3 linked regions of the Homo sapiens genome follow. Each later gene encodes a partner of the first gene's protein in a complex. Each region holds a gene or a part of one and is shown on either strand. Other genes may lie near its edges. The genes, in order: MIDEAS, HDAC1 and DNTTIP1. A codon is read from its position in the direction of its gene.

The links.
Region 2: the proteins of MIDEAS (region 1) and HDAC1 are in contact, whole or in part, in a cryo-EM structure (PDB 6Z2J), measured with the Homo sapiens proteins. Residues at the interface, in NP_001036783.1 of Homo sapiens: Arg722, Asn724, Gly726, Ser727, Arg728, Phe729, Gln730, Glu732, Pro734, Leu735, Met736, Arg737, Asp738, Arg739, Ala740, Leu741, Ala742, Ala743, Ala744, Asp745, His747, Lys748, Ala749, Asp750, Leu751, Val752, Trp753, Gln754, Pro755, Trp756; in NP_004955.2 of Homo sapiens: Tyr14 (codon at 4,056), Gly17, Asp18, Asn21, Tyr23, Gln26, Lys31, His33, Arg36, His39, Leu43, Asn44, Tyr48, Arg49, Lys50, Met51, Glu52, Ile53, Tyr54, Arg55, Pro56, His57, Thr65, Lys66, Tyr67, His68, Pro81, Ala119, Val122, Lys126.
Region 3: the proteins of MIDEAS (region 1) and DNTTIP1 are in contact, whole or in part, in a cryo-EM structure (PDB 6Z2J), measured with the Homo sapiens proteins. Residues at the interface, in NP_001036783.1 of Homo sapiens: Gln768, Asp771, Leu772, Thr774, Ala775, Ser778, Ser779, Ile802, Leu803, Leu806; in NP_443183.1 of Homo sapiens: Pro63, Ser66, Leu69, Leu70, Ala72, Val73, Leu74, Pro76, Ser77.

What each region holds. Positions count from the first base shown.
Region 1 is NC_000014.9:73,722,217-73,729,322, reverse strand, and holds part of MIDEAS (mitotic deacetylase-associated SANT domain protein), read left to right. Parts: intron 1-1,798; coding exon 1,799-1,865; intron 1,866-2,350; coding exon 2,351-2,493; intron 2,494-2,615; coding exon 2,616-2,719; intron 2,720-3,214; coding exon 3,215-3,290; intron 3,291-3,962; coding exon 3,963-4,051; intron 4,052-6,475; coding exon 6,476-6,625; intron 6,626-7,106.
Region 2 is NC_000001.11:32,288,154-32,295,157, forward strand, and holds the start of HDAC1 (histone deacetylase 1), read left to right. Parts: upstream 1-3,929; 5' UTR 3,930-4,016; coding exon 4,017-4,065; intron 4,066-7,004. UniProt on the Homo sapiens protein: Histone deacetylase that catalyzes the deacetylation of lysine residues on the N-terminal part of the core histones (H2A, H2B, H3 and H4).
Region 3 is NC_000020.11:45,794,910-45,802,015, forward strand, and holds part of DNTTIP1 (deoxynucleotidyltransferase terminal-interacting protein 1), read left to right. Parts: intron 1-435; coding exon 436-534; intron 535-6,164; coding exon 6,165-6,233; intron 6,234-6,492; coding exon 6,493-6,549; intron 6,550-7,089; coding exon 7,090-7,106. UniProt on the Homo sapiens protein: Increases DNTT terminal deoxynucleotidyltransferase activity (in vitro). Also acts as a transcriptional regulator, binding to the consensus sequence 5'-GNTGCATG-3' following an AT-tract.

The sequences.
Region 1 (7,106 bases):
ACTGCCAATATTCAACTATTTTTGGATTCACAAATAGTAGTTTCCTTTGGTTCAACCTAATAGCCACTTCCTAGGCTCAGGTGCATTAGCACACATAAAGCTGGAACATCATGCCCAGGCCATCCTGTTTGCTCATAGTCCTTTGTGGCAGATCTAGTCTCTGGGGCTCTCGAACAGTCTTTTTGGCCAAAAGCAGACATTCTGGAAATATTGGGCTGGCTTGGGGTGATGTACTGCTGAAAAATGTTGCCCACTCCATAAAGAGATCCATTTCCTCTGCAAAATGGGATAATCCAATCCCTTAGGGTGGTAGAGAGGATTAAGTGGAAGTAGCTAGCTTATAGATGCCTTTGGCCAATTAACCTTTGACTGTGACCTCACCCATGGTGTAGCTCTCTGGTGCCCCCTGGTGTCTGTGGATGCAAAATGTTTGCCCTAGGCTGGCCAGCCTTCTGTACTGCTTCCTGGGGAGGCTTCTCCCTGGCTAGGCTGTGTAGGAAGAGGAAGTCATTGTAGAGATCAGACTGGCAGCCAGCGAGAGGTCAGTCTGTCCACGAGTATCTACCGAACACTCGGGCGTAAGGCCTTGTACTGGGTCCTGTGAGGGCTCCAAGAATGTACAGGACACCATGGTCTGTTCTATAGAGAATGCAAGGTCATTAGGGAGTTGACATGAAAGCCTTGGAGTTGAAAAAACAGAGGTTCCCGGTAGTGTGGGATCTGCAGCCAGTGAGCAAAGCCCCAGCAGCTAGCCTGGGATGGTGAGGACTGTATTCAAGAGGGGTGGGGCCAGAGCTGAGCCGCAGCGATGGAGGAGGGCGGGGGGCAGGGAGGACACACCAGGCGGAGGAAATGACTGGTGCAAAGGCCTGTAGATGGGACCGTGCAGGGAGAGTGAGGGGTTGGGAGGTAAGCAGTCAGCTAGGATGCAGGTCCAGGCACATGGGTGGTGGGAGGTACAAATGGAAGCGGAACCGCCTTGAACCCTGAGGGGAGGGTTGCAGGTTTTATCTCACATTGCAGGAGGGAGTCAGTAAAGAGCAAAGATTTTTTTTTTTTTTTTTTTTTAAGCAAAGGAGTGTTTTGATCATGTGGGGCCTTAAGAAGACCAACTTGGGCCTGGGCACGGTGACTCACACCTGTAATTCCAGCTACTTGGGAGGCTGAGGGAGGAGAATTGCTTGAACTTGGAGGTTCAACTCCTTGAGCCGAGATCGCACCACTGCACTCCAGCCTGGGCGGAGACAGAGTGAGACTTTGTCTCAAAAAGCAACAACAACAACAACAAAAACAAAAAAAAAACTAGCTTGGGAGAAACTGAGGCAGAAAATCCAAAGAGGAAGTGAGACGATAACTATAAAACAGCGATCCCCTTCACCACCTCCCTAGTGTGCTCAAAGTTTCAGTCTCTTTACTAGAAAACCACAGCTTTATGTTGGAGTTAGTGTTGGAGCTTCTGGGGGCAAGGATATGGCTTTGGTAGTAGAAGCAGTAATAATAATCTTTATCGAGTGCCAGGCTCTGTGCATTATTTTATCCAGTTCTCACATTAACCGTAGGAGACAGGTAGTGATAGCCCCTTTTGGTGAGTGTGAAAACTGAGGCACCCAAATATTTAGTGAAGGGCCTGCGTTTTCGTAGGTGACAGGCTGCAGAGCCAGGACTCAGGTGCCTGTGTTCCCTGCGTGAGCTCTGTGTGTCACCACTGTGACTCTTGCACATACAGGGCAGCCACTAGGATTGGGGGTGCTTTGCTGAAAGGGGGGTGCTATTTATCAACCTGCTCTTTGTCCCATAGACAGTGCTGAAGTAACCCCGCCTGTCCTCTCTGTGATGGGGGAGGCCACCCCAGTGAGCATCGAGCCGTAAGTGCAGCCCTGCCCCTGGCCGAGGGGTGTGGGTGGCCACACTGGTGCAGTGTGTGCAGGTGGGCCCTGGGAGCAACAGGAGGGTTCCGTGGGGCCTGCAGAGGGCTGAGAGGGCCTCCTTGAGCTTCTGTATGTGGCCCTGGGCTTTGCTGTCCCCGCCCTGCCTCTGTGTGGAAGTTGCAGGGAAGGGCAAGGACCGGCTCAGCTTGAACTTATCTCTAGGAGAGTTGAAAGGGGGGTCCAGAGGCTCTTTCCCATCTGTAAACCTGCAGCTGCTTCTCCCCTCTCCAGCCTCTGGACCTTGCCTTTCTGGTGGTGCCAGGTCAGGCTGTCCTCCCAAGCCCCTAGAAGCCAGACTCCCTACACCTAGCTGAGGCCTTGCTCTGCCGGCTCCCCCTCATCTTCTTCCCACCCTGAGGGATCATCAAGTTCTCCGTCCCCGCAAGGTGAGGCCTCACTTCCTGCCCTTTTCACTCCTCTAGACGGATCAACGTGGGCTCCCGGTTCCAGGCAGAAATCCCCTTGATGAGGGACCGTGCCCTGGCAGCTGCAGATCCCCACAAGGCTGACTTGGTGTGGCAGCCATGGGAGGACCTAGAGAGCAGCCGGGAGAAGCAGAGGCAAGGTGAGGAGGGGCCTGGGGGCAGCAAGTGAGGGCAGGCACATGGGTGGGCCAGGCCTCACCCTGCCCAGCCCCGCCCTGAACGTGGTTTCCTCCCCTCCCTCCTCATGCTCCTGTGGATCCAGTGGAAGACCTGCTGACAGCCGCCTGCTCCAGCATTTTCCCTGGTGCTGGCACCAACCAGGAGCTGGCCCTGCACTGTCTGCACGAATCCAGAGGAGACATCCTGGTGAGAAGGCAACCCCAGCAGAGGGAGGGCCCCTCAGTGGGGGCTGGCTTGGATCCATGTCTGCTGCTCAGGACCTATGGCTGCTGGCATGCACATTTGAGGCCAGTAGGAGGGTCTGACTAAGGAAGGGGCTGTAGGGGCTTGACCCAAGGGAGCCCTAGTTTCAGACCCCGGGTTTTGCTGTGCAGTGTCCTCCTGTCCATTCCCATCCCTGATTCTGGGTCAGTGGACTCAGACTGGATGGTTGCTGAGAGCCTTCTCCAGCAGTGCTGCCTCCCTTGGGGCCATGGACTCTCTTAAGAGGACCTGAGGTCTGTTTTCTGGGCAGCCCCACCCCCTGTGATCTCACCACCCCAGTGGACCCCTTATCTCTCAGCAGTTAAGGGGGCAAGAGTAAGTGTCCACCCTACTCGGGATTTTATCAGGGCCTAGAATGCTCCGTCCACCACCGACACCCCTGTCAGTGCCCTGACCCTTCCCTCACTTCCCCTCCAGGAAACGCTGAATAAGCTGCTGCTGAAGAAGCCCCTGCGGCCCCACAACCATCCGCTGGCAACTTATCACTACACAGGTGGGCCTGGCTGCGGTGGGCATGGTGCCTGGAGCCTCAAGAGGTCTCCAGCATCCATGGGGCCCTGCTCAGTGCTGAGTCACAGCCCTGGGTGGGGGCGGGAGGAGGAGGGTAGATAAGCCAAGAGTCAGAGTGAGGGAACTGCCACCAAAGCTGGGGTAGCTCTCCAGGGGTTTCCTGTGCCCTGGAGGGGAGGGGAGAAGGGAGTGGGCAGGTGGGAGACCATCCAGGCAAAAAAGCCCAGGCCACAAGGACAGGAACCCATGGAGAGCCATCCAGATTGGCATCAGGTACCTGGAACTTAGCCCCAGGAGTGCATGTCCTGTTCTGGTCACTTTAAGAAGGACATGGACCGAGTCACATAATCCTAACAGCCAATGTTTTCCATGCATGTTAGTGCTACATTTCATCTGCACCAGGCAGAGCACCAAGGGTTTCACATGCATTATCTTATTTAATCCTCACCACAGCTGGTGAGCTAGGTGATATTAGTTTCCATTTCACAAGCAAGGGAGCGAGGCTGTGAGGCACATGGAAGTGGGACGAGGAGCCGGCTCTGATGCCTGCAGAAACCATGGGCGGATGGCCTCACACTTTTTTGCTTGTCAAAATTGCCCTGCAGTGGCCAGGGCCCTGCCCACCTCACTCCCTGGCTGCCTCTTTGCCCCATAGGCTCTGACCAGTGGAAGATGGCCGAGAGGAAGCTGTTCAACAAAGGCATTGCCATCTACAAGAAGGATTTCTTCCTGGTGCAGAAGCTGGTGAGCTGGGCTCTGTTTCAGGGCAAATGAGGGCCAGGAGCTGCCTGTGTGACTTTGGGGCTCCCTCTGCCAGTGACCAATCCCTCTTAAAAAGCAGTCAGGTCAATGCTACTGAGTAGCCTCAGAGAGAATTTCCTAAACAATACAAGAAAGAGAAAGATAGGTCTCTTTTCCCTTTTGGTTCTAAGCATCCTTTCCTCACTTCAGGGTAGGGTGGCCAAGCTCTGGGGTCTCAATCCAGAAGGAGGCCTAAGTGGGCATCAGACTTAAAATAGGCAGGAGGAAGATGCGGAGGAGGGTGGCAAGTAGAGGTGAGCCATTCCCCAGAGGAAGATGCAGGGGGAGGGCACCCTGGGGTGAAGGCCACTGAGAGCCAGCAAGTGCCTGCGGAGCTGACCTGGGGGCCTCTGCCCACTTCCTTTGACCCAGAGTTGCCTTCCAGTAACTCAGCTGTTCAAGCCCACATTCCCTAGATTTATCTTGTCCTCTCTCCATATTCTTCTGGAAAAGCAGATGCTTTGCTAATCCAAGGAATTGCATCTTTCCAGCCCTGTCTCACAAAATCTGGGCTGTGGGGAGAGAGAATTGTGTGGACTGCCAAGGGAAAAGAGTTTTTAAAAAGAGCATGCCCTTTCCTCTTGGGATTGTAGATTGTATTGGGAACAGCCCTGGGGACTAGACAAAGTGCTGATGATGAATTCCCCTACAAGGGCCCTGTTGTGAGGAGTCCTTTGCTGTGTTTTAGTAACACGCTATTCCCTGATTGGGCAATACTGACGGGAAGTACACGCCCGTGAAATTCACGGAGGCGCCCCTAATGCCTAATGAAATGAGCAGACCTTTAGTCAGTCAAACAAAGGGTCAGAGAGAATTGACAGTAAATGTGTAAATGGCCTAATTAATACATGTGTGACTTGGCCATTTCTGTGAGATGAAACATGTCTGTTTCCTCCTCAGACACAAAGGGCCCACACTGACCCCTGGCCTCTCTGGACAGGAGCTCCCAGCCCAGCGGTGGCTGAGCAATGTGCGAGCCTGTGTGGTGGTGTCAGAGGAAACAGCCTCTGGGTGTGGGAAAGTTGCCCAAAAACTAAACCCAGTGGCCAAATAGATTTATGCAATGGGAGAGCTAGAATTTCAGAGCTTGAGAGGCAGGTCCCTGGAGATCATCTAGTCTTACTTAACCCCATTTGCTATTTACACATGAAAAAACTGAAATTAGAAAAGTGAGTGACTTGCCTAAGCTCGAATAGCTGTGTGGTAGCAGAGTCAGGAGGAAGACTTAGGCCTTTCGCTTCCTCCTCAGGTTTTCCAGGGCTTTCTTGTGAGTTTCCCTTGAGTTCCTCCCCCGACAGGGGACACTGTGACATTTCTGTATGCTCACTTCTCAGCCACTGCTCCCTGGAGAGAAATGAAATTGTTTGCCTGGATTAATGAAAAGCGTCTGTGTTGCCAGGTCAGGGCTGGCTTTGGATGTAGATGGTGCCCAGACCTTTTCCCTCAACTTTTCAGTTTGAAAAATTTCAAACTTAGAGGAAAATGGAAAGAACAGTAGAATGAACACCCATCCACCCCGGACTTAGATTTAGCAATCGTTAACATTGGCTATATTTGCTTTCTCTTTCTCTATGTCTAAACATAGACACACACATATACAGCTCTCTCTTGTTCTCTGATTCAGCTAATCATTAAAAGTAAGTTACAGTCATCCTGTCACATGACTAAAACCTTTCAGCACGTATCTCCTAAAAACCAAGATATTCTACAAAACCACAGTACCATTAGCACGCCCACGAAATTTAACCTGATAAAATAATTCAGGCCAGGCGAGGTAGCTCACGCCTGTGATTCCAGCACTTTGGGAGGCAGAGGCAGACGGATCACTCCTGAGGCCAGGAGTTTGAGACCAGGCTGGCCAACATGGCAAAACCCCATGTCTACTAAAAATATTTAAAAAAAACTAGCTGGTTGTGGTGGCACACACCTGTAATCCCAGCTACTCAGGAAGCTGAGGCACGAGAATTATTTGAACCTGGGAGGCGGAGGTTGCAGTGAGCCAAAATCGCGTCACTGCACTCCAGCCTGAGTGACAGAGCGAGACTCTGTCTCCAAAAAAAAGAAAAAAAAATACAGTAATGCCCTCTGATATGCAATCCATATTGCCATCTCCCGAGTGGTTCCGACATTGTCCTTTATAGCTTTTTTTATTTATTTACTTATTTTAAATAGTGCTGAAGCATTGATTAATTGATCAGTGGTTTGTTGCAGAGCAGGCATTGGAAAAATGCTTGTATTGCCTGGGTTGGCTGGGTTTCATTTTGGCTTGAAGTTAAGGGAAAGATGCAGGGACGAGAAAGGCTGGATTCTCCACAGGCAGATGAGCCAAACCAGAGGGTTCTGACCTCAGTTTTGACTTCAAACCAGATCCAGACCAAGACCGTGGCCCAGTGCGTGGAGTTCTACTACACCTACAAGAAGCAGGTGAAAATCGGCCGCAATGGGACTCTAACCTTTGGGGATGTGGATACGAGCGATGAGAAGTCGGCCCAGGAAGAGGTTGAAGTGGATATTAAGGTGACTCCTTTTCCAACCTCAGCTGCATAGAGCCTGGGCTGGGTCTGGGACCAGGCCTGAGCTGGGAGCCCGAGCCCGAGCTCTCCAGGAGCCTGCAGAGGGCAGGTTGAGGAAGACAGTGTCCCTGACAGCCGCAAGGAGCCCTGGACCGCTGGGTTCTCCTCTCTATACTGCTGGTGTCATAGTAATAATACATTGTGTTGATACACAGGGTAATTTTCCCACAAGATTCACACCAGCATCATCTTCCTATCTCCGCTTAGCAGACCTCTAACACTGTTTCTCAAACCTCAGTCATTCTTGTATCACCTTTTTGATTTCTGCCATATCTGCATCCTACCATGTGTCGCCATTAGAATTTTTGTCATATTCATATACTACTTGTGCCATTACTTAATATTTTCCTTTAAGTCAACTCATTTTTTACTCAGAAGGGAAGTTTTATATCACAGTGATAAATAGAAAACCAAGGTTGTGTGCT
Region 2 (7,004 bases), on another chromosome or scaffold:
CAAAAAAGAGAGCGAAACCCCATCTCAAAAAAAAGGGAAGATTTAGCTATGTTGGACTTACCTGTCCTCATGGAGCTGAATAATGGCCACCCCTCCAGGTAGGGCCTGAACTCTACCTTTGCCAGAGTCCCCTCCACTCCCTGTTGGTCTTAGACAATGAAACTGAGTGTTAGTAGCTATTTACCACCAAGCTCATGCTTGTTGTTCTTATAATAAAGATAAATGGTTTAATAAATGGTATGATAAAGAAAATTATATTATGGTATTATACCATTTAATAAATGGTATAATAAAGAAAATGGTTTTTTGCACCCACATTTCCATTAAAAAGTGAGAAAATTAAAGATACCTGAGGATGGCAGAGTGTTTGATGAAAGATAGGGAAATGTTGGCCAGGCACCGTGGCTCACACCTGTAATCCCAGCAGTTTAGGAGGCCGGGGCAGGCGGATCACAAGGTCAGGAGTTCAAGATCAGCCTGGCCAACATAGTGAAACCCCGTCTCTACTAAAAATACAAAAAATTAGCCGGGAGTGGTGGCAGGTGCCTACAATCCCAGCTACTCGGAAGGCTGAATGGCGCGATCTCAGCTCATTGCAACCTCTGCCTCCCAGGTTCAAGCCATTCTTCTGCCTTAGCCTCCCTAGTAGCTGGGATTACAGGCGCCTGCCACCATGCCTAGCTAATTTTTATATTTTTAGTAGACGTGGGGTTTCGCCATGTTGGCCAGGCTGGTCTCAAACTCCTGACCTTGGGTGATCTGCCCGCCTCGGTCTCCCAAACTGCTGGGATTACAGGAGTGAGCCACAGTGCCCGGCCTCTAATTTTTATTTTTAATTTTTTTAATTTTTATTTTTTTAATTTTTATTTTATTTATTTTTTGTAATTTTTAAAATATACAAAAAAAGGGCCGGGTGTGGTGGCTCACGCCTGTAATCCCAGCACTTTTTGGGAGGCTGAGGTGGGTGGATCACGAGGTCAGGAGATCGAGACCATCCTGGCTAACATGGTGAAACCCTGTCTCTACTAAAAATATAAAAAAATTAGCCGGGCCTGGTGGCAGGTGCCTGTAGTCCCAGCTACTCGGGAGGCTGAGACAGGAGAATGGCGTGAACTCGAGAGGTGGAGCTTGCAGTGAGCCAAGATCGCACCACTACACTCCAGCCTGGGCGACAGAGTGAGACTTCATCTCAAAAAAAAAAAAAATTATATATATATATATACATATATATATGCAAACAAAGAGCATCTGAGTCATAATAATGTAAATCTATCACCTGACTGACCTGCTGCCACACCTCATGATCTCATCTGATCCCCACACTCCTTCTCTTTGGGATACTGTGTACAGCCATAGCGTGGGTGAACTTTGTATTCCTATCCTCCCCATTTTTGTTATTTTATTTTATTTCTTATTTATTTGAGACAGAGTCTCACTCTGTCATCCAGACTGTAATGCAGTGGCCTGATCTCGGCTCACTGCAACCTCCACCTCCCGGTTTCAAGCGAATCTCCTGCCTCAGCCTCCTAAGTAGCTGGGACCTACAGGCACACACCACCACGCCCAGCTAATTTTTGCATTTTTAATAGAGACGGGGTTTCACCGTGCTGGGCAGGCTGGTCTCGAACTCCTGACCTCAGGTGATTTGCCCACCTCAGCCTTCCAAATTGTTAGGATTACAGGCATGAGTCACTGTGCCCGGCCTCCTCCCCATTTTATAACAAGGGAAATGGAGGCCCAGAATGGTTAAGTAAACCCACCCAGGGCTAGCTGAGAATTAGCAACAGAGAACTGGGAGTAGAATTTGTTCCCTGGCCCTTTGCTGTTTCTATTATAAGCCACCCAGTCTTAGATTTTCTGTTACCTTATAATTAATGACTCAAATGCAGTTTCTGAGTGAGAAACACAAGTCCCAAACACTCTTTAAAGAGGCATAAAGATGTATCTTGTTGTTTTCTTTTGTTTGAGACAAGGCCTGGCTCTATTGCCCAGGCTGGAGTGTGGTGACATGATCTTGGCTCACTGCAACATCTGTCTCCTGGGCTCAAGCCATCATCCCACCTCAGCCTCCTGAGTAGCTGGAACTACAGGAGCGCGCCCCCACACCTGGGTAATTTTTCTATTTTTTGTAGAGATGGGGTTTTGCCATGTTGCCCAGGCTGGTCTCGAACTCCTGAGCTCAAGTGATCCACCCATCTTGGCCTCCCAAAGTGCTGGGATTACAGGCGTGAGCCACTGTGCCCAGCCTCTTGTTGACTGTAGGACCACAAGTTGGCGGCTAACTTAGAGCAATGTTTGGCACACAGGAAGCACTCATTAAATATTGACATTATTGTAGTTATTTTAATAGCCCAGCATTGCACTTTTAGGTCTTTCAGCTTTCAGTGATGATCAGTTGATAATTGATGATCTGGTGGAGTGGTTCTTAATGGTAGAGTTGGGGGCAATTTTACACTCCCTTACACCCCACTAATCTTCCCCCCAACCCAATGGTAAAGCTATTGCACAGTACTTGGCAATGTCTAGAGACAATTTTGGTTGTCACAGCCTGGGGGGAAGGTGCTACTGGCATCTAGTGGGTAGAGGCTAAGGATGCTGCTTAATTTTTTTTTTTTTTGAGACAAGAGTTTCACTCTAGTTGCCCAGGCACAGAACAGCTTCACAGAAGCTGTTAATGCACAGAATAGCTTCCTACAAAAAAGCATTACCTGGCCCAAAATGTCATTAGCTACCAGGCTGAGAAACCTGCCCTCCTAGGCCGGGCGCTGTGGCTCACGCCCGTAATCTCAGCATATTGGGAGGCCGAGGTGGGCGGATCCTGAGGTCAGGAGTTCGAGACCACCTGGACCAACACGGAGAAACCCAGTCTCTACCAAAAATACAAAATTAGCCGGGCATGGTGGCACATGCTTGTAATCCCAGCTACTCGGGAGGCTGAGGCAGGAGAACCGCTTGAACACAGAGGCAGAGATTGTGGTGAGCCGAGATCACACCATTGCACTCCAGCCTGGGCAACTAGAGCGAAACTCTTGTCTCAAAAAAAAAAAAAAAAAAAAAAACAGGGAAAGAAAAGAAAGGAAACCTGCCCTCCTATCATAGGATAATCCCATTTCCTCCTGTCTAAAGAGACGCCTACTTAGTCATCCTGGGTGACTGCATCAGGGAGGTAGATTTTGGAGTCTGAAAGGCTGGGTTCTGTCACTTTGTTACAGTGCCTCTGGTGCAAAGAAAGCATTTTAAAAACCCTGTACAATTAAAAAATTGAATTTAATTACTTTGTGTAACTTTGAATAATTCACAGAAGTCTGAACTTCTTTATCCTGTCCTGTAAAATGGAGGTAAAAAGCCCTTGGCCGAGAGCTGTTTTGAGGAAAAACTGAAATAACATTGGTAAAGTGTCGCACAGTACTTGGCACACAGCAGCCCCTCGACAAACATTAGCTTTCTTTCCCTTTCTTGTCGGTTTCTTCCTCTCCAAACCCGCGTGTTGCTTTTCTTTTTAATTATTTTTCTGTAGCCCTCCTTTGCGGCCACAAACTCGCTTTCTAACCCAGGTTCAGCCCTTTTATTGGCTGAGTGACCTTGTGCAAGTCACTTTTCCCCTGTAGGCCTCGGTTTATTCTCCGTAAAATCAGAAAGTTGGCCTCCGATCTCCAAGCACGCTTTTCACGACGAAGTGGGACTGTTAAGTTTACAGAGCTGCTTTCCTCCCCCGGGACTGATGGTACGGTCCCCGGGCGGCTCCCCACCCATCTGTCGCAGACCTTGGTACAGGCCCAGGGGGCCCTCGGCGGCCTCTCCGGGCTGCCCTTGCCCCCTGCCGAGTTCCGGGCCCGTGTCTGCGCAAGCTGATTGGCTGGAGCGGTGCCCGGGCTGCGCGGCTATAGGTGAGCCCAGGAGGGGACGGGCGGGGCGGGCCGGAGGCCCGCCCCCTCCCCCCTGGGTCGGACGCTGAGCGGAGCCGCGGGCGGGAGGGCGGACGGACCGACTGACGGTAGGGACGGGAGGCGAGCAAGATGGCGCAGACGCAGGGCACCCGGAGGAAAGTCTGTTACTACTACGACGGTGAGCACCGTCCTCGCGGCGGGGGCGGGGCCAGGCCGGGCCGGACCGGGAACCTGGAGGCTGAGGCTGGAGCGCCGATGGGAGGCTGCGGGAGGCTGAGGCGCTGGGGAGAGGCTCGGAGAGGAGGCTGCGAGGGGGAAGTCGAGGCTGAGGGAGGAGGCTGCGAGGAAGGGAGATCGAGGCTGAGACCAAGAGGGGATCGCGTGGGGGAAGCGTGAGGTAATCTTGATGGGAAGATTCTGAGGAAGTCTGATGTGGAGAGTTTGAGTGGGACTCCTAGAGGGGAGGGTGCGTCGGAGCGGGGAGGCTGAATCTGATGGAGACGGCTGCAAGGATACATTTTCTTGCCGAGAACCCAAAGCTCTTCCCTGCCCCGTCCCTTCCTCATCTTTTCTGGGGGAAGAGTCCTGCACGACTGGTTGCCCGCCTCCCCTCCCCCAGCCTCTGAGCGGGGCCTGCGGTTGCTACTGCGACGTGGGGCGCCAGGGGTTGCAAGGAGAAGGATGCAACCTGTTAAAACAGACTTCTCACTTAATCTCTCAAGCAGGTTACTGTGTTCGAGGAAGTGTTGAGGGGCTGGGGCCGTGGGGTTGATCGGGTCACCCTTCCCAGTGACCGAAGTTCTCTCCGTGTCAGAGCTCAGAGTGTTAGGGGAGCACAGAGAAGAGGCACCGAACTCCACCTGAGGAGTCAGCGAAGGAGGGGACATCTTAGTTAGGACCTGAAGAACAGGAGTTCTTAGCCAGGCACAGGGAAGGCAAAGATAACAGCAAGTTTCAGAGGCAAGAGAGAGGACAGGACCTTTGAAAAACAGGCATTTGGCCGGGCGTGGTGGCTCACGCCTGTAATCCCAGCACTTTGGGAGGCCGAGGCTGGTGGATCACCTGAGGTCAGGAGTTCGAGACCAGCCTGGCCAACATGGTGAAACCCCGTCTCTACTAAAAATACAAAATTAGCCGCGCATGGTGGTGTGCGCCTGTAATCCCAGCTACTCTGGAGCCTAAGGCAGGAGAATCCCTTAGAACCCGGGAGGCAGAGGTTGCAGTGAGCTGAGATCGTGCCACTGCACTCCAGCTTGGACAACAGAGCGAGGCTCTGTCTTAAAAAAAAAAAAAAAAAAAGATGTAAATAGGGACCGGACCATGAAGGGCTGGGCATGCTGTCCCAAGGAAGTTGGACTTTATTGAGGGCACTTGTGAGTGATTCAAGTTTTATGCAGGTTATTGACATCATCAGGTTTATACCTTAGAAATTAAAGTAATGGGGGCCAGGTGCAGTGGCTCACACCTCTCTAATCCCAGTACTTTGGGAGGCTGAGGCAGGCAGATCACTCGGGGCCAGGAGTTCAGGACCAGCCTGGCCAACACGGTGAAACCCCATCTCTACTAAAAATACAAAATTTAGGCTGGGCACGGTGGCTCACGCCTGTAATCCCGGCACTTTGGGAGGCTGAGGCGGGCGGATCATGAGGTCAGGAGTTCAAGACCAGCCTGACCAACATGGTGAAACCCTGTCTCTACTAAAAATACAAAAATTACCCGGGTGTGGTGGTGCGCACCTGTAATCCCAGCTACTCAGGAGGCTGAGGCAGGAGAGTCGCTTGAACCCAGGAGGCAGAGGTTGCAGTGAGCCAAGATTGCACCGCTGCACTCCAGCCTGGGCAACAGGGTGAGACTCCATCTCAAAAAAAAAAAAAAAAATTAGCGAGGTGTGGTGGCACATGCCTGTAGTCCCAGCTACTCAGGAGGCTGAGGTGCGAGAGTTGTTTGAACCTGGGAGGCAGAGGTTGCAGTGGGCTGAGATCTCACCACTGCACTCCGTCCTGGGCAACAGAGCGAGACTTCGTCTCAAAAAAAAAAAAAACAAAAAAATTCAGATTGTAGGGGTAAGGAAGAAGGCATGGATCCCAAGTTCCTGGTGTGGGCAGTATTTTTTATTTTTTGAGATGATGTCTAGCTCTGTCACCCAGGCTGGAGTGCAGTGGCTTGATCTCGGCTCACTGCAACTGCAACCTCCACCTCCCAGATTCAAGGGATTCTCCTGCCTCAGCCTCCTGAGTAGCTGGGATTACAGGCGTGCGCCACCATGCCTGGCTAGTTTTTGTATTTTTATTAGAGATGGGGTTTCACGATGTTGGCCAGGCTGGTCTCAAACTGACCTCCAGTGCTCCATCTGCCTCAGCCTCCCAAAGTGCTGGGATTATAGGCATGAGCCACACTTCCTGGCCTCTGATGTGGGCAATTTGATGGTGAGTGTTTGGAGGTTTGGAGAATGCCATGTCAGTTGATAACTTTTTTTTTTTTTTTTTTTTGAGATGGAGTCTCGCTCTGTCGCCCAGGCTGGAGTGCAGTGGCGCAATCTCGGCTCACTGCTGCAAGCTCCACCTCCCGGGTCCATGCCATTCTCCTGCCTCAGCCTCTCCAGTAGCTGGGACTACAGGCGCCCGCCACCACACTGGGCTGATTTTTTGTATTTTTAGTAGAGACAGGGTTTCACCGTGTTAGCCAGGATGGTCTGGATCTCCTGACCTCATGATCCGCCCGCCTCGGCCTCCCAAAGTGCTGGGATTACAGGTGTGAGCCACCGCACCCGGCCCCAACTTTTTTTTTTTTTTTTTAAACTTCTAGAGATGGGGTCTCAATATGTTGCCTGGGCTTGTCTTGAACTCCTGTGCCTGGCCTCAAGCAATCCTGCCACCTTGGCCTCCCAAAGTGCTGGGATTACAGGCCTAAGCCACTGTTTTTTTTGTTGTTGTTGTTTGTTTGTTTAGAAATAACTATTGATAACTGTTAAGATGTTTAGGGGACATCCAAGTAGAGGCATCCAGTAGGCAGTTTAGAAGATAGAAATTTTTTGGTAGTCATCAGTATCTTAGTCTGCTATAACAGAACACTGTTTATAAAGAACAGAAATTGCTGAATGTGGTGGCTCACGCCTAT
Region 3 (7,106 bases), on another chromosome or scaffold:
TGCCCCAGCCTCCCAAGTAGCTGGGATTACAGGCATCCGCCACCACGCCCAGCTAATTTTTTGTATTTTTAGTAGAGACGGGGTTTCACCGTGTTAGCCAGGATGGTCTCGATCTCCTGACCTCGTGATCCGCCCACCTCGGCCTCGCAAAGTGCTGGGATTACAGGTGTGAGCCACCGCGCCCGTCCTGATTTTTTGCACTATTTACACCTCAATCTGTTGGGCACCCCCACGATTATATCCGTAAGAGGGGGAATAAAGGGAGGAGGTCAAGCCTGAAATGTGAATCTAAATCTGGCTGATCCCAAAGCCCTGCTCATAATCACTTTTCCCTTCTGTATGAAGCTAGGATAAAGACTTATTTTATATTCAGTTTCCTTCAGGTTGATGCACATTAACAGGACTCTGACCTTGTCCTCTGTTGTGCTCCCCTAGTTCTTCCAGAAGGCAGCACTGAACGTGCGAGACAATGTTGGGGAGGAGGTGGACGCAGAGCAGCTGATCCAGGAAGCCTGTCGGAGCTGCCTGGAGCAGGTGAGACCAAAGGGGACAAGAGATGCAGGCACAAGGTTTAGCTCTCGAGCCTCTGATAAGAAATGCGATCTTAAGCCGGACGTGGTGGCTCACACATGTAATCCCAGCACTGTGGGAGGCCAAGGTGGGCAGATCACTCAAGGCCAGGAGTTTGAGACCAGCTTGGGCAACGTGGCTAAACCCCATCTCTACAAACAATACGAAAATTAGCTGGGCATGGTGGTGCACGCCTATAATCCTAGCTGCTTGGGAGCCATAGGCACGAGAATCGCTTGAACCTGGGAGACAGAGGTTGCGGTGAGCCGAGATGGCACCACTACACTCCAGCCTGGGTGAAAGAGCAAGATTCTGTCTCAAAAACAAACAAAAAAAGAAATGTGATCTTGTCATCAGTGGTATTTTGGGGAATGCCCAGCAAGCCACATATTGAGATAGGCTTGAGGCTGTTGCTGACAGGGAAAGGAAGGGAAGTAGCTACTATATGTCAGGTACCAGGATAAATGCATTATTTTTTTTTATGTCTCAGAAGAAACTATGTACAGAAGATATCTTTTAATTACTATTTTATAGATGAAGAAATTGTGACTTAGCAAACTCATAGAAGCAGAGAGTAGAATGGCAGTAGCTGGAGGGGAGAAGTGGGGGGATGTTAATCAAAGGGTACAAACTTTTAGTTATAAGATGAACAAGTTCTGGGCAATCTGATGTACAGCATGATGACTATAGTTTATCTCTATTGTTTACTTGAAATTTGCTAAGACCATAGATCTTAAGTGTCCACACACAAAATGGTAGTGGTGGATGTGTTGATTGATTTCATTGTGGTAATCATTTCACTATGTATATCTATGTCAATTCATCACATTGTACACCTTGAATATATACCATTTCTGTTTATCAATTATACATCAATAGAGCTAGAAAAAAATTTTTAAAAGCAAAGCAAAAAAAAAAAAAGAAATGGCTTAAGACACATAATAATTAGAATAGCTAAGATCTGTCTCACCCCTGCAGGTGCGTGGTGGATCAAGTTATCATGGCCCCATTTGGTATCATGGGGATGAGCACCCTGCTGCCTCCCTGCCTCTCTGGTGTGGTCAGGAAGCATGACATCAGGTCTATAAATGACTGTTCCCAAGATAGTAGAGAACCTGTTTACATGTGTCAGCTGCTGTTATTAGGAGGAATTGTTGCCATCACCATTTTATAGGGAGACATCAGGAAAGGTCGCCAATAGTCGCTGGCTCACTTTCTCACCTCCTATTCATTCTCTTCACTTTGTTTTCGCTTCAGTCCCCACTACTTCACTGGAACCCCTCTTGTCGGGGTCGCTAGTAACTTCCGTGTTGTCAAACCCTCTGGTCCCTAACTGTCCTCAACTTACTCAGCTTCTCAGTGACATCTGTCACAATGGATCATTTCGCGTTTCTTGGAATGCTCCTCTGTTGGCTAGAGTGCCTTGACTTTGCTCCAACCTCATTGCCTACTCTTCTCTCTCACCCCCCGCCTCTAACTGTTGGTGCCTTCCCAAGTTCAGTCCTCAAACCCCTTCTCTTTCATGGCTCACTGTTTTCATAGGTGTTTTCATCTAGTCCTGTGGCTTGGAAGCCAATTCAGCCGCTCATAATTCACACATTTATATCTCAGTCCAGAGTTACATTCACCGTTACCCAGTTCCAATCCACTCTTCTCACAGCAGCCAGACTGATCTCCGTAAAGATGAATTAGATCATGTCACTCCCCATTTTAAAAACCCTTCAGTGACTTTCCTGTTGCAGGGAGAATAAAGTCTTAATGCCTTACCATGATCCTGCTGGGAAAACTGGCTAGCCATATGTAGAAAGCCGAAACTGGATCCCTTCCTTACACCTTATACAAAAATTAATTCAAGATGGATTAAAGACTTAAATGTTAGACCTAAAACCATAAAAACCCTAGAAGAAAACCTAGGCAATACCATTCAGGACATAGGCATGGGCAAGGACTTCATGACTAAAACACCAAAAGGAATGGCAACAAAAGCCAAAATTGACAAATGGGATCTAATTAAACTAAAGAGCTTCTGCACAGCAAAAGAAATGACCATCAGAGTGAACAGGCAACCTACAGAATGGGAGAAAATTTTTGCAATCTACTCATCTGACAAAGGGCTAATACCCAGAATCTACAATGAACTCTAACAAATTTACAAGAAAAAAACAAGCAACCCCATCAACAAGTGGCCAAAGGACATGAACAGACACTCCTCAAAAGAAGACATTTATGCAGCCAAAAGACACATGAAAAAATGCTCATCATCACTGGCCATCAGAGAAATGCAAATCAAAACCACAATGAGATACCATCTTACACCAGTTAGAATGGTGATCATTAAAAAGTCAGGAAACAACAGGTGCTGGAGAGGATGTGGAGAAATAGGAACACTTTTACACTGTTGGTGGGACCGTAAACTAGTTCAACCATTGTGGAAGTCAGTGTGGCGATTCCTCAGGGATCTAGAACTAGAAATACCATTTGACCCAGCCATCCCATTACTGGGTATATACCCAAAGGAATATAAATCATGCTGCTATAAAGACACATGCACACATATGTTTATTGTGGCACTATTCACAATAGCAAAGACTTGGAACCAACCCAAATGTCCAACAATGATAGACTGGATTAAGAAAATGTGGCACATATATACCATGGAATACTATGCAGCCATAAAAAGTGATGAGTTCATGTCCTTTTTAGGGACATGGATGAAGCTGGAAACCATCATTCTCAGCAAACTATCACAAGGACAAAAAACCAAACACCGCATGTTCTCACTCATGGGTGGGAATTGAACAATGAGAACACATGGACACAGGAAAGGGAACATCAGACACCGGGGCCTGTCGTGGGGTTGGGGGAGGGGGGAGGGATAGCATTAGGAGATATACCTAATGTTAAATGACGAGTTACTGGGTGCAGCACACCAACAAGGCACATGTATACATATGTAACAAACCTGCATGTTGTGCACATGTACCCTAAAACTTAAAGTATAATTTAAAAAAAAATGCCTTACCATGACCCACAGAGCCTACCCTCGACTGGCTTCTGCCTGCTTCTTTAACTTCATTTCATCTCACCTCTTTTTTATTGACTATACTCTGGCTGTTCTGAACTCCTTTCTGCTCCTCCAGCACAAGCTTAGGCCATTTCACTTGCTGTTCTTAGTACCTGGGGTACTCTACCCTTAACTCTATAAAGCCGGCTCCTTCTTTTCTTCAGATCTTAGTTTAAATATCAGAGAGGTCTTCCCCTCGCACTCCTACCTCTGCTAAAATCTTGAGCTTTACAAGAGTTGAGGCCTAATCTTGTTCACCACTGTATTCCCAGCCCTGGAATATGACTCTTAGTATGTGTACAGAGTTTGCTGAATTATTGAGTAAATGAAGGAACAAACAAATGATAAATGAACAAACAAGCTTCCTGCTCTAATAGAACTTAACAGCCTACTTAAGCAGACAGGTGTGAATTAGATTACCAACAAATGTGTGCATAATTACACATTGAGACTTGATCACCCTTCACTGGAAAGGGACAAAGTTTGGAGGAGAAGAGCATGAATCCAATTATGGATTAGCAGCTTTGAGCCATCCAAGCATAGACATGGGGCAGACTATTTGGTATATAAGTCTAGAGCTCAGAGGATAACCTTTTGTCTACAGTTGAATTATGGAATCGTGGTTTATAGATGTTAATTGAAGCTGTGAGAATAGGTGAGAGCAGATAGAATATGTAATGAGAGAGGATAGGGAAAAGAACCAGATTGAGAAGGAAAAGCCAGCAAAGAAGGCTAAGAAAGAACGGCCAGAGAAGTAGAAGGAACACAGGAAGTGTGGCCACAGGAGCCTGTAGAAAAGAGTGTTTCCAGAAGGGGGAGCCCTCAGCACTGTCAAATGCCACTGGCAGAGGTCGGGTGAACCCAATTCTCCACCTGCTGCACCATCTCCCCTCTGCCCATTCCATCCTTTTCTTTGTCAAATGAGCCAGGTGTTCCCACCTTTGAGCTTCTGCACTCCTCCCTGCTGCTGAAACACTTCTGCCCAGCTTTTTTTACAGCCTCCTTCACATCTCAACTCAGAGGCCACCTTCTGAGCAAGGCCTTCCCTGGCCATTCCCGCAAAGTAGCCCTTCCCCTCTGGTGGTTCTCTGTCACATCTGCCTGGGTTTTTTTCTTTTTTTCTCACAGCATCTATCATGATCCACAGTTACCTTGTTTGTTTCTGTGCTTATTATCCAGATCACCCACAAACTATAAGCTCCACAAGAGCTTGTCCTAGTTACTGCTGTGTCCACAGCACTTAGGTCCCAGGTACTCAGTATTTATTAAAAGAAAAACAGCAGGCCAGGCGCACTGGCTCACGCCTGTAATCCCAACACTTTGGGAGGCTGAGGCGGGCAGATCACGAGGTCAGAAGTGTGAGACTAGCCTAGCCAACGTGATAAAACCCCATCTCTACTAAAAATACCAAAAAAAAAAAAAAAAAAAATTAGCTGGGTGTGGTTGCACGCCTGTAATCCCAGCTACTCAGGAGGCAGAGGCAGGAGAATTGCTTGAACCTGGGAGGCGGAGATTGCAGACAGCCGAGATCGCACCACTGTACTCCAGTCTGGGCAACAGAGCAAGATTCCATGTCAAAAAAAAAAAGAAAAAAGAAAAACAGCAGCTTACTGAGGAGTATGTGTTATACTAATGTATTTAGTTTGAAAAAACATACAGTATGTATTTACATGGGAAAAGCAAGGAAGAATTTACATTGAAACATTAATAGTAGTTTATGTAATGAGATTCCAGGTTTTTCTTATTTTGCTTTTTTACATTTTTTAATTTTTCCAGCCATGATCATTAATTCAAGTTTTTTTAAAAATAGATATCTATTTCTATGCATATAAATATATATATGTGTGTGGCTGGGCGTGGTGGCTCATGCCTGTAATCGCAGCACTTTGGGAGGCCAAGGCAGGTGGATCACCTGAGGTTAAGAGTTCGAGACCAGCCTGGCCAACATGGTGAAACCCCGTTTCTAATAAAAATACAAAAATTAGCTGGGCATGGTGGTGGGCACCTGTAATCTCAGCTGCCTGGGAGGCTGAGGCAGGAGAATCGCTTGAACCCAGGAGGCGGAGGTTGCAGTGAGCTGAGATAGCACCACTGCACTCCAGCCTGGGCGACAAGAGTGAAACTCCATCTCAATTTAAAAAAAAAAAAAAAATATATATATATATATATATATATATATATATATATATATATATATATATATATATATATATTTGGAAGTGGGCCGATCACTTGAGGTCAGGAGTTCAAGACCAGCCTGTCCAACATGGTGAAATCCCGTCTCTTCCAAAAATACAAAAATTAGCTGGGTATGGTGGCGCACCCCTGTAGTCCCAGCTACTTTGGAGGCTGAGGCATGAGAATCACTTGAACCCAGGAGATGGAGGTTGCAGAGAGCCAAGATGGTGCTGCTGCACTCCAGCCTGAGCAACAGAGCAAGACTCTGTCTCCAAAAAAAAAAAAGGAAGTAGGTAGGGTGTGCTTACCCACCAAAATAGTGACTGGTAACACTTGGTCTTTTTCCCTTCAGGCTAAACTGCTCTTTTCAGATGGAGAAAAAGTAATACCCAGATTGACCCATGAGCTTCCAGGAATAAAGGTCAGAGTCACTGTGTTCTCGGGTATTGGAGCGGGAGGTCCTTCAGGCTGGGAGGCAAGTGAAATATGTGGGCCCAGGGAGGTTCCATGTACTTCCATTTGTAGGACCAGGCCCACACAGCATCATGCTGGATGGGCTTCTTTGGCCTGGGTCAGAGCGGGGCTGGAGAGCTGTAGTCCAGGGCTGTCTTCTGCAACTCCAGAAGACCTGCAGCTCCCAGGCACTGGCCTTCCACTGACTCCCTTCCCTTTTCTTTTAGCGTGGCCGTCAGGCAGAAGAAGAATGTGCCCATCGAGGAAGCCCCCTTCCTAAAAAGGTAAACCATTTCCTTGTTTTGTTTTCTGGCTGAAAAAAGGCTTGTCAGGCCGGGTGTGGTGGCTCACACCTGTAATCCCAACACTTTGGGAGGCCAAGCGGGGAGGATCACTTGAGCTCAGGAGTTTTGAGACCAGTCTGGGTAACATAGTGAGACCCTGTCTCTAAAATAAAAAAAAAATTAGCCAGGCATGCTGGCACATTTCTGTCGTCCTAGCTACATGAGAGGCTGCAGTGGGAGGATCACCTGAGCCCAGGAGTTCAAGGCTGTAGTGAGCTATGATCATGCCACTGCACTCCAGGCTGAGTAACAGAGTAAGACCCTGTCTCTCAAAAAAGGCTCTTCACTCCGCAAGGTACTGGGCTTCCTCAAAGCCCTTTTGAGCCTTCCTAGACATGAGAGGCAGTTTTTCTCCCTGTCCCTGTCAAACATCATTTGATCTCTTTGGAAAACCATCTCTGCCAAGTGACCCTGGACCTGCCAATGGGGTATGGGGAGTAACCACAGGGTCAGACCTCTGACAGCTGTTTTTTGTGGCAGAGGAAAGGACGGCCTCC